Homo sapiens: one gene and its partner. The protein of the gene in region 1 interacts with the protein of each later gene in a biochemical or structural test. Each region holds a gene or a part of one and is shown in the gene's direction. Other genes may lie near its edges.

Region 1 (3,834 bases):
AATATAAAGAAAAGAATTAAATTTCTGTTGTAGCAAAATTTTTTAAAATTCTGAAATTCTATTTTTTATAATTCTGGAGTATGTAAGTAGAAAATAAATAATTATTAAATAATTAAATAATAATATACATATACGTATACATAAACATGTGGTATATTGTACGTACAGTCTTTAGATGGGAAAATTCTTTATTAAGTGTAATTATCGCCCCCATTTCACAAATGAGTGTTGAGATGTGACATAACCAAATCATATATCTGAGGCTAAAATCCAAGTCTTCAGATTGCAAGTTTAATACTTTCTCCATGTACCATCGTGCCCCTGTATGTATGTTTGCATGTTTATGTTTAAAGCATAAGTGTATTATTTATTTATATAGAATATATATGCAGATATTCCTTGACTTGTGATCGGGTTACATCCTTATAAACATTCTTAAGTTGGAAATATTATAAACTGAAAACACGTTTAATATACCTAACTACCAAATGTCATAGCTTAGCCTAGCCCACCTTAAACATGCTCTGAACACTTACATTAGCCTACAATTGGGCAAAATCATCTCACACAAAGCCTATTTTATAATAAAGTGTTGACTATCTCATGTAATTTATTGAATACTGTACCATGGTTTCTACTGAATGCATATTGCTTTTGTACCATCATAAAGTCAAGTAATCATTAATTTGAACTGTCATAAATAGGGCACCATCTGTGTATGTATACATATTATTACTAATATGTACATGGGATTTTAACTTTTTTCAAAGGACTTTCAAAATGTTTATGTCTTTTATTACTTATAATGTCCCATGAATTAGATACAGCAGTTTAATGAACCCATTTTAAACCAATGTGCAGAGTTGCCAGGTTATCTATTAGTAATGTTATTAATGGTACAGAGCCTAGCATGAGAGTTGTTTGCCATATAATGTAGACTTCAAAGTCAGTGGACCTGGGGTTTAAGCATGACTAATGTACTAGCTATGTGACCTTCGCTTTACCTCTTTCCGTGTATGTCTTTCTTCATTTGAAAAAACGAGTATAATACCACCTACTTCGCCAGCACATTATAATCACTACATGAGATTCGTTGTAAGTGCTTAATACAGAATTTGACATATAATAGTATCAAAATAAGTGAGCATTGTCTATAATTTTATTACTTTTATTAGCATTAAAATTTTATCACCAGCCCCATGATATTCTGATCATCTTATAGTATAAATCATTTTATATTATACTATATTATTCTAGGAATCATGAAACTGCATTTTACTTACTTCTGTTTGTAATATAGAAATGTATTTGTGATTTATGATGCCAGAGTCAAACAATGATTGTTGGAAGAGAGGTTTCCCACCAGAAGTCCATGAAATTTCTGCGCTCAGATGCCTCCTTCCCTACAGCAAAGGCTGGTAGAGAGCAGTAGGCGGCACCCAAGTGGCACTAGGTCACAAGTGCCCCCAGATTTTGCCATCTCCTACTGGCTGAAGCCAAGCGAAGGCATCTGACTCAGCCAAGCAGAGGTGGAGAGGCTGCAAAGCCAGTATAGATGGCTGTTATCCCAAGACACTGGTATTATCAAAGGCAGTTTTCGAAGGTCATTGTTTCCAGAGTGCATTTGCTTTCCCCATTACCTGTCAACCTGGAAGAAATAAATAAATGTGGCCAATGGATTTGCTCTGGATTATGATTGGCCACAGCTGCTTAGATTGGCAACTTCCAGGGAAAATGCTTCTTAGTGTGCTGCTACAGACCCTAAAATTTTTTGAGATTGGAGTTTTTACATGAACTCCAACAAAAAATGCCCTAAACACACCTGACTAGGCATGAATTTTCATATAACAGGGCTTCCAGATAAATTATTTGCTGCATGGTATAATTAGAAAATTATTTATTTGCTTGTAATAAAATGGGAAAGAAGAGAGATTCTATGCTTTAGAAAAAATGAGATTCTATTACTAAATATTTATTCACTAAGATTTAATAGTTATTGACGGGAGCAAAATGAAATGCCTTGCTCAGTGAATGCAGAGACTCCAAAAAGACTATTTTTTCTTGTTAGAAGTAATTATACTAGTGTTCAAATTAACAAACATTCATCTAATAACTCTATATGCCTTTTAAACTAATACTGTTTTCATAGCCTTCTACCTCATTTCTTCCTTTCCAGGTTCTCATCCAATTCTTTAAACCTCTTCCCCAGATATACCCTCCATCTCATCATCTTTGCCCAATGTATTAACTGTTAAAAATATTCATCATTTATTGAGGACTTGCTATATACCACATACACATTATGCCGTTTATTCCTCTCAAGCCATGAATAGGAATTCTATGAGTAAACTAAAGCTCAGAGAGGTTAGGTAACTTGCCCAAAGGCATAACATGACTAAACAAGGCTGGGGTCAATCTCATGTCTTTCTGATTCCGCAGACTGTGTTCCCACCCGCATTCCACTTCCTCGTGCTGGGCTGCCTCTCTTCAAACACAGAATATCACAAGACAATGAATCAAGCATAAATGAAACTCCCAAAATCCTCATTCCTCTCCCTTTCTGTGGCCTTTGGTTGAAACATGCCTTTTGTTTGTTGTCTGTTTTGTAAATACCACTATAAGCTCCATGAAGACAGAAGCCAGTCTGCTTGCCATTCTCTCATTTGGAGTACAAAAGTAATATAAATTTTTGTTAGCTTCTCAAGTTTATTCTTTCACAGAATTCTATTTAACCAGACCGGGTGCGGTGGCTCATGCCTGTAATCCCAGCACTTTGGGAGGCCGAGGCGGGCTGAACACCTGAGATCAGGAGTTCAAGACCAGCCTGGCCAACATGGCGAAACCCCAAAAATACAAAAATTAGCCAGGCATAGTGGTGCGCACCTCCCAGCTACTCAGGAGGCTGGGGCAGGAGAATCATTTGAACCCAGGAGGTGGAGGTTGCAGTGAGCCGAGATTGCACCACTGCACTCCAGCCTGGGTGACAAAGCGAACCCTATCTCAAAAAAAAAAAAAAAAAAAGAAAGAATTATATTTAACTAGAATTTATTTACTCCCAGATTTTGTTCAGTATTAGATTTTAATACTCTATAGCTTAGCAATTGTTTTAACACAATAGATAACCCCTGCCAGTAGACTTGTACTCAACTGAATGGAGCTTGGACACAAAATAAATGTTATAAGAGAGGGTCTATCTTGCAGATCTATTGAGCTCCCTTCCTTGTAAACTGTAAGCTTGACTCTAACATGTTGCTTTCTGATCATGAAGCTAAATTTTTTTTTCCTAAGAACAATTTAAGGTTACAAAAGACTAAACGTTTTTTTTAAAAAAACCCAAAATATCAAAATATTCTCTGAACTAACCTTTCCTTTGCTTCCTTTTGGGTCCTGAGCCAGTTCTGAAAGGGCTTCTTCCCATGTGTCAACACAATGCCTCACCAAAGTTTGGGTTCATAAGAATCCCTGGCCTGACTATTGGTTTGCATGTATGATTTAGTAAAAACCTGCTGGGAAATATTCAGTTTGACCCTTTTTTCTAGTCTTGTTCTTAATACTGCTGAGAGACCAAGACTGATTTTTTCCATATGTTAGCTATAGGAATGATCAGTTAAGCACCTTGACAGCAACAGGTGTAAGGCGAGGGCCCCAGAGGGCATTAACAAAAGACTGATGGCCCCCTCCTCATCTGTGTATGTATCATTTAACTAATCCAGCCTACAACAACTTGAAACCAAAAGGTGCCTGGGCTATTTTCACCAGCAAGTAACTTGTTTCCAGGAGTGGGTAAGATTTTCCTTCACAGGCCCCAAAGCTATCACCTTTCTTTTTCCCCCC
Region 2 (3,834 bases), on another chromosome or scaffold:
CGAACAGCATATACAATGGTGGTCCCATAAGATTATAATGGAGCTGAAAAATTCCTACCACCTACTGATGTTGTAGCCATTGTAATGCCACAGCACAATGAATTACTTATGTATTTGTGATGACACTGGTATAAACAAACCGACTGTGCTGTCAGCTGTATAATAGTATAGCACAGGCCAGGTGTGATGGCTCGCACCTATAATCCCAGCACTGTGGGAGGCTGAGGTGGGTGGATCACCTGAGGTCAGGAGTTCAAGACCAGCCTGACCAATATGGTGAAATTCTGTCTCTACTAAAAATACAAAAATTAGCCAGCCATGGTGGCATGCACCTGTAGCCTCAGCTACTCGGGAGGCTGAAACAGAATTGCTTGAACCCGGGAGGCGGAGGTTGCAGTGAGCTGAGATTGCACCACTGCACTCCAGCCTGGGCAACAGAGCGAGACTCTATCTCAAAAAAAAAAAAAAAAAAAAAAAAAAGAAAGAAAAAGAAAAAGAAAAAAATGTATAGCACAGACAATTACATACAGTACACAATACTTGATAATGATAACAAATTACTGTGTTACTGGTTTATGTATTTACTGTACTATACATTTTATCATTATTTTAAAATCTACTCCTACTTATATAAAAAAAAGTTAGCTGTAAAACAGCCTCGGGCAGGTCCCTCAGGAGGTATTCCAGAAGGCATTCTGGAATATGAATATCATAGGAGATGACAGCTCCGTGTGTGTGACTGCACCTGAAGATCCTGCAGTGGGATAAGATGTGGAGGTGGAAGACAGTGATACTGATGATCCTGACCCTCTCTGTAGGCCTAGGCTAATGTGCGTATTTGTGTTTTAGTTTTTAACAAAAAAGTTTAAATAGCAAAGAATACATAAAATAAAAATTTTGAAACAGAGAAAAGCTTATGGAATAAGGATATAAAGAAAAACAGTTTTGTACAGCTGTACAATGTGTTTGTGTTTTAAGCGAAGTGTTATAAAAGAGTCAAAAAGTTTAAAAAAATTTACAAGTTTATAAAGTAAAAGAGTTGAAGCTAAGATTAATTTATTATTGAAGCGATACAGTTTTTTTTTTTTGAGACAATCTCGCTCCGTCACCCAGGCTGGAGTGCAGTGGCGTGATCTCGTCTCACTGCAACCTCCGCCTCCTGAGTTCAAGCGATTCTCCTGCCTCAGTGCCTCAGCCTCCCAAGTAGCTGGGACTACAGGTGCGTGCCACCATGCCTGGCTAAGTTTTTGTATTTTTAGTAGAGATGGGGTTTCGTTGTGTTAACCAGGATGGTCTCGATCTCCTGACCTCGTGATCTGGGAAATATAAATATTTTAAAATAAATTTAGTGTAGCCTAAGTTTACAGTGTTCATAACATTCTAGTAGTGTAATGTCCTAGGCCTTCACATTCACTCACCACTCACTCATTGACTCACCCAGAGCAATTTCCAGTCCTGCAAGCTCCATTCATGGTAAGTACTCTCAACAGGTATAGCATTCTTTATCTTTTATACTATATTTTACTGTGCCTTTTCTATGTTTAGATAGGTTTAGATACACAAATACCATTATGTTACAATTGCATACAGTATTCTGTACAGTAACATGCTGTACAGGTTTGTAGCCTGGAGTAATAGGCTATACCACATAGCCTAGGTGGTATACCATATAGGTTTGTGTAAGTACAGTCTATGATGTTTGCACAACAACGAAATCACCTAATGATGCACTTCTCATAATGTATCCCCCTTGGTAAGTGATGCATGACTGTGGCAATATTATATTGCTATACATTATAATAGTAATTTTATAAAAATATAGTTATATTCAATTTATAGTATTATATCCTTATACTATTGCCATTATATTTATAACAAATATTATTAATATTAATAATTATTTATGTGGGCCTGATAGTGTATTATCCCAGTGAAATGTTTTCACCTTAAGTTTCGATATGTACTTAAAAATAAGTCTATTGTTTGTTAAAACTATCTAATAATTCATGGTTTTATCAATTACAACAGGTCCCTGTTGTAGTTTCTTTCTGTCCAAATGGTCTCTCAACTTGACAAATCTTTAGGAGCATGAATTTCCATATTTCAAAAAATGAAAAGATAAAGAAATCTCACTGGAAACTGTGGTTGGGCAGATACAATATGGAGACAAGTTAGATTCACTATGCTTTACTTCCTATGAATGCAATGACACCATATACGTGTGTCCTAGTATATGTGACATTTATATGTAATATTAAGCTCAAATTTAAAGTATCCATTGTTCTTTTGGAATCTTTCAGTAATGGAAGTTTATTCTTTCACAGGTATCACGGTTACATTTATACATACCGAGTGTCCCAGACAGAAACAGGTTCTTGGAGTGCTGAGGTATAGTTGTATTTATTTTTGCTTCTGGGGGTGTCAAGGAGGTATTTGAAATTTAGGCTGGTTTTATAAAAGAGCAAATTATACATTATTAAGTATTCATAAGGTTTAAATCTCTAAAGCTCCAATCCAAAATTGTTCATGGATCATTAAGAAAGCTTTAGAGAATTTTGGTCCCAGTCCTGTTTAGCCATCATTTTGCAGAGTTGTATGACTTTGGGAGAAAGATAAAAAAGTTGAAGAATTATGTCAAACTTTTAGTGACTATGTGAAATCTTAGCATATCAAAAGTAGGTAAAATAATTAAATGAACAATTATTTACCAAATGATACCAATATGAGTATTGGTATCGTGGGAGATTAAAAAACATGATGCTTATTTTCTAAGAGACTACAATATACTTGGGAAGTTATAACTTGAAATTAAACAGTTATGAGTGGAAGAAACTAGGCTTTGTCAACAGGTGAATCTGGGTTCCAGGTCTGGTCTCCCCTCCTCTCTGATAGGTCTATGATCTTGGGCAGGTTACTTGACTTTTCTGTGAGCCAGTTTCTTCATTTGTAAACGGAGCCTAAGAATCCTCCCTTATGCACAAGGCTCAATTTGAAAAGTAAATAAGATAACACACATAAAGAAGCTGTTTGCCACAAGGCCTGGCACACAGTGAGCCCTCAAAAAAGTGAACTCCTGAAAATTGCCACAACTCCTATTAATAACTCAATCTGTGCATTTAAAATTTTCTGAAGTCTAGACTTCAAGAAGTTAAAATAGCTCTCACGTTTACTGATTTATCAGTAAGTTGGAAAGTATAAATTACAGACCACAAATGTTTTGAACCACTGAGATGAATTAGGCCAAGTTTTCAAACACACTTTTGCTGTATTATGTAAGGATCATTAAAACTATAATACTAACTAAAGATAAAGTTATACCATTTCTAATTGAAACTATTTATACCTGTTTATTTAAAAAATTCTCTGTATCACTGCAGAGATGATTGAATAAGAAATTAAACTTTATTATGAAGAAAGTTATGTGTAAAATATACTGACAAACACACACACACACACACACACACACACACACACACACACACACGTTTGTATATTATTTCGCCAGAAATAGCTCTTCTCCCCAGAGAAATACCCTTCAGCTGCTGAAGAATATTATGTAAGGAAAGGATCTTAAATGCTTAGGGTTTAACAACTTTGTTTTTCAACTTGTTTTCCTGCATTTTGAGTATAACATCATATGAGATTGTTACATGCTTGTGATCATGTTAAAGAAGAGAGGGCTTATTGAACACAAATGCCCCCTCATCCTGTTGTCTGATCTGACGTTGTTTATGTAATAATATTGTAATTTTCTGCACCAAGAGAGCAGAAGATTGGCATGACATCCGCAAATAGAAAATAGTTTAAAAAATTCTTTAATTTTTGAAATGCATA

Evidence for each region.
Region 2: the proteins of FYB1 (region 1) and SH2D1A form a complex in vitro, tested with the Homo sapiens proteins (one study listed by IntAct).

Annotation. Positions count from the first base shown.
Region 1 is NC_000005.10:39,195,396-39,199,229, reverse strand, and holds part of FYB1 (FYN-binding protein 1), read left to right. Parts: intron 1-3,834. UniProt on the Homo sapiens protein: Acts as an adapter protein of the FYN and LCP2 signaling cascades in T-cells. May play a role in linking T-cell signaling to remodeling of the actin cytoskeleton. Modulates the expression of IL2. Involved in platelet activation.
Region 2 is NC_000023.11:124,363,437-124,367,270, forward strand, and holds part of SH2D1A (SH2 domain-containing protein 1A), read left to right. Parts: intron 1-2,324; coding exon 2,325-2,388; intron 2,389-3,834.